Homo sapiens: one gene and its partners. The protein of the gene in region 1 purifies or fractionates together with the protein of each later gene. This does not show direct contact. Each region holds a gene or a part of one and is shown on either strand. Other genes may lie near its edges. The genes, in order: LMAN2, TMED2 and ATF6.

Region 1 (3,660 bases):
GGGAGGGCAAGGTGGGTGGACTGCTTGAGCCCAGAGTTCACGACCAGCCTAGTCAACATGGTGAAACCCTACTTCTACCAAAAAAAAAAAAAAAAAATTAGCCAGGCATGGTGGTGTGCGCCTGTAGTCCCAGCTACTCAGGAGGCTGAGGTGGGAGGATCACACCCAGGAGACCGAGGCTGCAGTGAGCCGTGATTACACCATTGCATTCCAGCCTAGGTGACAGATTAAGACCCTGTCTAAAAAAAAAAAAAAAAAAAAAAAGCCACTCTTTCAATGTCAATGTGTAGCCTACTGAAGAAAATAGTTTCATAAATTAATGGATTTAAAGGTAAAAAGGGTTAAAGTGGTAAATTTTATGTTATATGCATTTACAACATAAAAACAACACCCCTGAAGCCTAGTAATATACCATTTATAAGAGAAAACGCTAAAACATAAAGAAATGGGAAAAAGTAAAAGGACAGGAAAAATGTATCATGCAAACACTAACCAAAAGCAAGCTTCTGCTCCTTCAGGAAGACAGGGCCACAGGCGCTGCAGAGCTGTGGTCTGCCCGCTCCTGCTCCTGCCTCACCACTGTTTGCTCTGGCTGAGGAACAAGTTGGTCAGGAAGGCTCGCAGCAGCCATGGCATGCATTTATTTATTTATTTATTTATTTATTTATTTATTTATTTATTTATTTTTTGAGACAGTCTCGCTCTGTCGCCCAGGCTGGAGTGCAGTGGCATAATCTCAGCTCTCTGCTACTTCTGCCTCCCAGGTTCAAGCAATTCTCCTGCCTCAGCCTCCAGAGTAACTGGGACTACAAGCGCCCGCCACCACACCCAGCTAATTTTTGTATTTTTAATAGAGACGGGGTTTCACCGTGTTGGCCAGGATGGTCTCGAACTCCCGACCTCAGGTGATCTGCCTGCCTCGGCCTCCCAAAGTGCTGGGATTACAGGCGTGAGCCACCGCACCCGGCCCACCCACGGCTTTAAAGATACCTGAAGAAAACCTGCGGAGCCAGAGGTGACAATTCACTGAATCTGAATCACTTTAATGAGCTGCAACATAGAATCCCCAGAAAAGGTGTGTGCTGACTTGATCAGAGGAGCAAAGGAAAAGAATCTCAAAGTGAAAAGACCAGCTGGAACGCCTATCAAGGCTTCGAGAATCACCACAAGAAAAACTCCTTGTGAAGGTTCTAACACACGGGATCGTTTCCAGATGAGAATCCACAAGTGGCTCACTGACCTCCACAGTCCTTCTGAGATTAAGCAGATTACTTCCATCAGTATTGAGCCAGGAGTTGAGGTGGAAGTCACCATTGCAGATATTTAAAGTTGACTATTTTAATAAATTGATTACCGGTTGTTGTTTTTTTTTTAAAAAAAGCAAGCTTCTATAGCTATACCCATAACAAAATGTAAAAAGGGGTTCTTCTTAATGATAAAAGATTCCATTTACCTACAGATATAATAAATCTAAGTTTTTGTATGTACCTAATTTGGCCTCAAAACATATAAAACAGAAACTGACAGAACTACAAAGATGCAGACAAATCCATATACAGAAATTTTTTTAACACTTTTTTTTTTTTTGAGATGGGGTCTTACTATGCTGCCTGGGCTGGTTTTGAACTCCTTGACTCAAGCAATCCTCCTGCCTCAGCCTCCCCAGTAGCTGACACTTACAGGCACGTGTCACCTTGCCCAGCCATACACAGAAATTTTTAACAAAGCTCTCTTAGTAACTTATAAAAGCAAGCAGACAAAAACATGAGGAAAGCTAGAGAAGATCCGAACTCAATCTTAACCCTGGCTGCACAGCAGACCCACCTGGGAAGCTCAGAAAGCAAGTTTGACCTAAAGAACCTACGTGGCACACTGTAGTCAACAAGTAGAGAATCCACATTCATAAGCACAAACAGAACGCGTCCAAAAAATCTGACCATGATGCAATTCCATCAGCTATCTAACAATAATAAACAATTTTAAAAGATAACTAAAATAGCCCTCATATATTTGAAAACTTTAAAAAAAAATATCTCACATGTACAAAAGTCAGCCCAGAAACCAGATTTCAAATGGTCTCTTTGGTGCCCAGGAGTTTTCTGCACCTGGGGACAACACCCTGAAGAAAGACCAGGCTGTTGGGAGGCTGACCTCAGAGCAGAAGGGCAACTGAGTGAGGGAGGTGGGAAAGGAAAACCCACACACCCATTCCCAGCATGTTCACGGGGAGGCTGGTTTCAGGAATGAGCACATGAGACAGTGGAGGACCTGGAAACAGACTCCTCCAGGACTACGCAGGCCTTGGAAAGTCTTCATGACCCCAGATTAAAACTGCAGATTAGTAGAGACATACTATGATACAGACAATAGAAGGCCTCTGGAGGATCTTAAGCAGGCAAGGCACAGGCTGGAAATGATTCAGAAGCTGCTTTTGGGGACAAACACGATATGACCACAGTTCTTAACCCACAGCAAACCCACCTGGGGAGCTCAGAAAGCTTAATGCCTTGGTCCTACACCAGGCCAACTACATCAGAATCACCTGGCAATAAGAGGCTATTTTACAGTTCAGCAGTTTCCACATCTCTGCTTGCAACGAAACGGAATGCAGATGTAATCAACAGTCAGCCGAAACATCATCAAAAATTTTGATAAAAGATCACTGCATGACGTTGGGTTTATAAACCAAAAGAAGATCAAAATATTCAGTGATGCTGCTCTACCAAAACTCCCGCTGTGCCAGGCACAGTGGTGGTGAGCACCTGTGTCCCAGATACTCAGAGGCTGAGGTGGGAAGATTGCTTGAGTCCAAGAGTTCAAGATAAGACTGGGCAACATAGTAAGATCCCATCTATAATAGAAATTTAAAATTTTAAAAATAACCCCATCTCCAACTACTATTTAAGAGAACACAGTTTCTCAGAATTCATGTACATAAAAACAAAAAGTAGAAGTGGTACTGAACTTGTCTTATTCTGACAGTATTATCCATCCAGATGGGGGTGGGGGGTGACATCCTACTGAGATCTCATGTTTCAAAAAATGTTTACTTTTGTATAATTACTCAAAAACTGTGTAATGCATTTACTTTTATCAAGTGTGTACAGATAATTATAATAATCTCAAACAAAATATTAAAAGTTTCAGTCTCAACAAAATTGAAAAGTTTAAATTATTATATTAATTTTACTTGCAGAAGAATATGGTAGGCTAATGAATAACATTTTCAAGCATTAAATATATTGCATTAGGATAATATTCTGTGTGGAAATGAAAGTACAAGTTCAATTAAAAAACTGACATACTGGCCAGGCACAGTGGCTCACACCTGTAATCCTAGCACTTTGGGAGGCCGAGGTGGGCAGATCACTTGAGGCCAGGAGTCGGAGACCAGCCTCGCAAACATGGCAAAACCTCATCTCTACTAAAAATACAAAAAATTAGCTGGACATGGCAGTGCGCGCCTGTAATCCCAGCTACTGGGGAGGCTGAGGCAGAAGAATCGCTTGAACTCGTGAGGTGGAGGTTGCAGTGAGCTGAGATCGCACCACTGCATTCCAGCCTGGGTGATAGAGCATGACTCTGTCTCAAAAAAAAAAAAAAAAAAAAAAAAAACCTCTACTAAAAACACAAAAACTAGCTGGGCGTGGTGGTGCACAC
Region 2 (2,425 bases), on another chromosome or scaffold:
AGTTCAGAAAATAAAAATGGAGAAACTAATGACATTATTATGACCAAGGTGTTTGGTAAACAGTGAATTCTGAGTTGGGATCATCAGGAAGAGGCTTTTTAAACAACTCTCCGGACTTCAAAAAATCTCTTCAGGTAGTAGATCTGTCCCAATGTCATGGCAACTAGAACAAGAGCTTCAAAGAAGGACCAAAGGACCACTCTGCTGTTTGTGTTGTCGTTGACTGTTGAGGACAAAACAAACAAACAAAATTTAACAATTCTCCCCCAAAAAGACATAGGCATCATAAATATTTTAGTCTTCACTCTGTGTGAAAGTAATATTGTGTACACCACTCATAGAATAGATGTTCCTCAACTTACGATGGGGTTACATCCCAATAAACCCAGCTTATGTTGAAAATACATAAGTCAAAAATATATTTAATACACCTAACCTAGCAAACATCATAGCTTAGCCTAGCCTACGTAAAACACGATCAGAACACTTACATTAGCCTACAGTTGAGCAAAAGCATCTAACAACACAAAGATTATTTTATAATAAAGTGTTGTGTATCTCATACACGTTAAACTGCATTTTATTATTATTTTCTATTTTATTTATCAAGTTAGTGAACACTGCACTGAAAGTAAAAAACAGAATGGTTGCATGGGTACTTGATGCTCAGTTTCTTCTGAATGCACATCACTTTTGCACCATCATAAAGCTGAAAATTTCTAAGTGAAGTCATTGTAACCTATGGGTCACCTATACTCTAAATACTTTTGTCTCCAAGCAACTCAACATACTCCAAAGCAAAGACTTTTTTGTTTGCTCTGTTGCCCAGGCTGGAATGCCATGACACAATCATAGTTCACTGCAACCTTGAACTGTACTCAAGCAATCCTGCCACCTCAGCCTCCTGAGTAGCTGGGAGTACAGGTATGCACCAGCCCATTTGACTAATTTTTTCTGTTTTTGTAGAGAAAGGGTCTTGCTATGTTGCCCAAGTTGGTCTTGAACTCCTGGCCTCAACTGATCCTCCTGCCTCAGCCTCCCAAAGTAGAAGCAAAGATTTTTAAAAGAAACCTTAAAGATTCACTGGGTACAGCCAAGTCCATTCTGCTTGTATATGGGGAGCAGAGAAGAAAATGTGACTTGCCCAAGGTCATAATTCTAGGGTTAAAACCCAATACAACCATCTTTCTCCCTCACCATTGAAACGTCCTGTATTAGTATCCAATTTGCTGAATCAGAAAACTGACTTCTAAAAAAATTAAGGAATTATTTCAAAATCACAGTTATCCAAAATGCAATTATTTACAACATCAAAATATGGCAGTCTGAGTGTCTTTTTCCCCAAATATGTTACAAATATTTGTTGAGCACCTGTGTACTTGTCAATTGTTCTCAATGGAAGAGGTTACTCAGTTATATGGATCCATACTGACAGTTACTACCAGACCATCAAATACAAGACAAACTATGCTCATCTGTCCTGCTCTCAAACTAAGGATTTGATCCTTAAAGTAAAATCCACACCTACTCTATATTTACTATACTCTATTTGTTACATTCAAGTTTCTGATCAAATTCTTTTTATTTACTTACTTTTTTTTGAGTCAGAGTCTCACTGTCACCCAGGCTGGAGGGCAGTGGCGCAATCTCAGCTCACTGCAACCTCTGCCTCCTGGGTTCAAGTGATTCTCCTGTCTCAGACTCCTGAGTAGCTGGGATTACACGTGCACACCCCCATGCCTGGCTAATTTTTGTATTTTTAGTAGAGATAGGGCTTCACCATGTTGGTCAGGCTGGTCTTGAACTCTTAACCTCAGGTGATCTGCCTGCCTCGGCCTCCCAAAGTGCTGGGATTATAGGCATGAGCCACCACGCCTGGCCAAATTCTTTTTATTTTTAAATGTATTTTATTATTATTATTATTTTATTTTTTATGTTTTGAGACAGAGTTTCACTCTTGTTGCCCAGGCTGGAGTGCAATGACGCGATCTCAGCTCACTGCAACCTCCACCTCCTGGGTTCAAGCGATTCTCCTGCCTCAGCCTCCCAAGTAGCTGAGCTTACAGACATGTACCACCATACCTGACTAATTTTGTATTTTTAGTAGAGATGCGGTTTCTCCATGTTAGTCAGGCTGGTCTCGAACTCCCGACCTCAGGTGATCCACCCACCTCGGCCTCCCAAAGTGCTGGGATTATAGGCATGAGCCATCACGCCTGGCCAATTTATTTTATTTTTTTAAAAACGGTCTCGTGTTGCCCAGGTTGGTCTCAAGCTCCTGACCTCAAACAATCCTCCTGCCTCAGGCTCAGAAGCAGCTAAGACTACAGGCACAAGCCATTGTGTCCAACTCTCCAGTCAAATTCTATAGCCTTAGCTTTTAATTACTATGTAGGCTGGGCACAGTGGCTCATGCCTGTAATCC
Region 3 (3,660 bases), on another chromosome or scaffold:
AGAATACGGGTTTTCTGTTGATTATTTGTCATTCTTCTTGACTTGGTCCTTTCTACTTCATGTCTATGAACCCATCCTCGAAGTTCATGATTTAACCTATAAAATATAGTTTAATTAATTAAACATAGAAATTAATTAAACATAGAAATGGATGTTTCACCCTGTGGGTGGAAATGAATCTAATCATTTGTAGGTTCCAAAGAGCATTCCAAGTGCCTGATGACTCAATATTGCTTTTTGATTTGAAAAAGTTGACACTTAACGTTGTTTTTAATAAGACATGCATTTTTACATGGTAAACCTGTCAACCATGCATTCAAACTTCAAAGAAAACTACAGCTAAATACCTCCCAAATATAAACACTGGATGCTAAGGTTTTTCCACCAAAAAAAGTATTTCCTTGCCAGGCACAGTGGCTTACACCTGTAATCCTAGCACTTTGGGAGGCTGGGGTGGGAAGACTGCTTGAGCCCAGGAGTTTGAGATCAGCCTGCGCAACACAGTGAGACCCTGTCTCTACAGAAAATTTTTTTAAAAAATTAACTGGGCATGGTGGCATGTGCCTGTAGTCCCAGCTACTCAGGAGGCGAAGGCAAGAGGATCACTTGAGCCTGGGAGTTTGGGGAAGCGGTGAGCTATGATCCAGCCACTGCACACCAGCCTGAGCAACAGAGCAAGACCCTGTCTAAAAATAAAATAAAATAAAACAAAACAAAATAAAAAGTATTTCCTATTTCTGTTCTTGGGCTATATAAACACAAACATTTGAGACACATTGTAGAGAACTTAACAAGTCATAGGACCCCTAACAACAAATAGATGCATTAAAACCTCTTGAAAATCATGCTCTTTTGGGAGAAGAAAAAGAATGAACTCAATTGCCTGGGGTAAAAAAAAATTCAAATTTTTCAACACACGAAATAAAAGCATAGCTCATATATAACTTCCCTTATTTTGCTTACTTTTTACAGCAGCTGTGAAGATGTTAAACTATGTTTAACTGTAGTTGATTACTACATATCACAAAAAATCTGAGGTAGTTTTTGAGGTTTTAAGGGTAAGGTCCAAAATCACAGGAAAAAAAAATTCAAGGGAAAAATTGATAAAGAAGTGTGTACTAACGGTAAAGTATCTCCAGAATCACATACCCACAAATTATTATCTTCCTAATTGGAAGAAAAAGGTACTTTCTGCTATGAATGTTACCAACTGTAAGCCTAACACCATGAAATTTTAATATTAATTTCATTCTGTAGTTTTTAAAGAAGACATATTTAAGTAAGCAACTATCACATAAAATAGACCCATCACCATCTCCATGAGGTTGGTGGAGAAACTGGACAACTAATATGCCTACAGTTATCCACAAATAATTCAGAGATTCTCTCAGTCACTTAGTGAACTTGACCAATTACTTGTCTAGGTTCCAAAACTAAACATGGGAACCAACTCAGATGTTTCTGCAATAATCTACAACACTCACCTGAGAGACTCTGTTGTGTTAATTAGGGGCTGACAAGGAGGTGGAGGAATGTAAAGCAATGGTTCTTCAGTTAGCACCATCAGGGCTTTGTCATTTGAAACAGAATGATCATATCTGAAACATGGATGCACAAAATTTGTTTCCTTGTATCTTAAATTCCTAAGAAGTTTGCTATAAGAAAATCATCATTAGTGTTAACTTTTCATGGAAACAAAAATATAGTAAACAGAATATACTGCAAGATAAAGTATAAAATACAAAACCTTATTTTACATGAAATGTCATTTTCTGATTTTCTACAGAGACAGGATGGTAATTCACATTTGTCTAATCACCATTTATTGAGCAATTAATTTGGAATAAGCGATACAATAACACATGGTTCATCATATCTTCAATGAGCTTAAGACATGCACAATGCTGCTGGTACAGAGGTAGTAACACAGTAACGGGGTAATTGAGGCGAAAATCAAGTGGTATTATGTGACCAGACTAAAGTTTAGGGGTCATTCACAATTCTATGATAATAAAATTGGATAGTATCTGTAAAACAGGTAGGGGTGTGTGTGTGTGTGTGTGTGTGTGTGTGTGTGTGTGTGTGTTAAGGATAGGGTGAGACACAATTCTATGATAAAACTGGATAGTATCTGTAAAACAGGTAGGGGTGTGTGTGTGTGTGTGTGTGTGTGTGTGTATGTTAAGGATAGGGTGAGACATAAAATGCTTGGCAGGAGAAAAGTGAAAGAGTTGAAAAGCCGAATATAAACTATGGGATCATGGAAGAATGTGAATCACTAATAAAACAACAGAGTGACTGACATTAACTAGTTACTCCATTTGCTTCAAAAATATATACTTTCCTAGCCATCGCACTGATGTAGATCATGTGAATTCATATCCAAGGTGTGACGTAGGGAGCAAAACTGGAGTTGAAAGTTAGAATTTGAGATGGGGATATTACTGTTATTTATGCTCTTCAGTCTGCAATCTTAATCTCTCTCACTAACAAAGCTTGCATCTCTCTTGAATTTCTTTATATAGGATGATCTGGATTTAGAAAACTAGATATGCTAATATCTCAAAAGAAAACATGTAAACATATAAAACTGAACATAGTGAGACTCACACTTTTCATTTATTCATTCAACAAATACTTGCTGCATACCAACTGTGCACCAGGTATTGTGCTAGGTGCTGAGAATCCAGTAGGGAATGAGAGAATCAAAGTTTCTGTCCCCAAAGACCTTAATGGGGAAGATGGACCAAATAGAAGAAAATAAATGCATAAAATAATCCGAACTCTAGTAAGTGCTATGAAAGAAACAAACAAATGGTTGAAATGGAAAAGCAATGGTAGTATATACTTTAGATAAAATGGTCCGAGAAGGAGATGGTAGTTACATCAAGGCCTAAATGATGAGAAGACGCCGCCTCTATAGAAACTGGGGTAAGAGCATTCTAGGCATAAAAGAGGCAGGTGGGGGAAAGGTGGGCTCAAAGAACTTTAAAAAGACCACTGGCTGAAGAGTTGCAAGCAAGTGGGGAGGTAGAGAGGGAACAGGATGAGGCTGGAAAGGAATCATAATAAGGTCATAATAAAAGACCAGGTCATAATAAGGAATTACTAAATGTAATAAGAAGTCATAAAAGTGTTTCAAATAAAGAAGTGATATATTTCAATTTACATTCATACCTTGCCATGGTACCAAAAATGGACTCAATGGAGGCAAAAGGGGAAGCTGAGACACTGATTAGGAAAGAGCTATGGCAATCCTGGCAAGAACTGATGATGGCATGGACTAGGTTTGTGGCAGCAGAGACGGAGAGGAGTGGACCAATTCAAGACAATTTTGGGGAAGAGTATCAACAACACTTGTTGAAAGACAGGAATCAGGATTTCTGGCTTAAGCAATGGAAAGGAAAAAACACAGTTGTAGAAAATTGGTTGGAAGTAAAACAGGGAGAGGAACTGAGTTCCACAGTGCACATGTTAAGTTTGAAATGTTAAAACAGAGATGTCAAAGAGACTATTGGATATGTGACTCTGGAGACTCAGAAGAGAAGTCTGGACTGAAAACATAAATTTGAGAGTCATCAGGACATATAGATATGAACTGTGCATGAAATTATAGATGAGTCACCTAGGCAGAAAGAAAATAAAAAAAGTTTACAGTTC

Evidence for each region.
Region 2: the proteins of LMAN2 (region 1) and TMED2 purify together in Homo sapiens (affinity purification with mass spectrometry; 2 studies listed by BioGRID and IntAct, with this or other methods). This does not show direct contact.
Region 3: the proteins of LMAN2 (region 1) and ATF6 purify together in Homo sapiens (affinity purification with mass spectrometry; one large-scale study listed by BioGRID and IntAct). This does not show direct contact.

What each region holds. Positions count from the first base shown.
Region 1 is NC_000005.10:177,345,099-177,348,758, forward strand, and holds part of LMAN2 (vesicular integral-membrane protein VIP36 precursor), read right to left. Parts: intron 1-3,660. UniProt on the Homo sapiens protein: Plays a role as an intracellular lectin in the early secretory pathway. Interacts with N-acetyl-D-galactosamine and high-mannose type glycans and may also bind to O-linked glycans.
Region 2 is NC_000012.12:123,594,403-123,596,827, reverse strand, and holds part of TMED2 (transmembrane emp24 domain-containing protein 2 isoform 1 precursor), read right to left. Parts: intron 224-2,425; coding exon 99-223; 3' UTR 1-98. UniProt on the Homo sapiens protein: Involved in vesicular protein trafficking. Mainly functions in the early secretory pathway but also in post-Golgi membranes.
Region 3 is NC_000001.11:161,849,660-161,853,319, reverse strand, and holds part of ATF6 (cyclic AMP-dependent transcription factor ATF-6 alpha), read right to left. Parts: intron 1,656-3,660; coding exon of another isoform or gene 1,599-1,655; coding exon 1,485-1,598; intron 97-1,484; coding exon 1-96.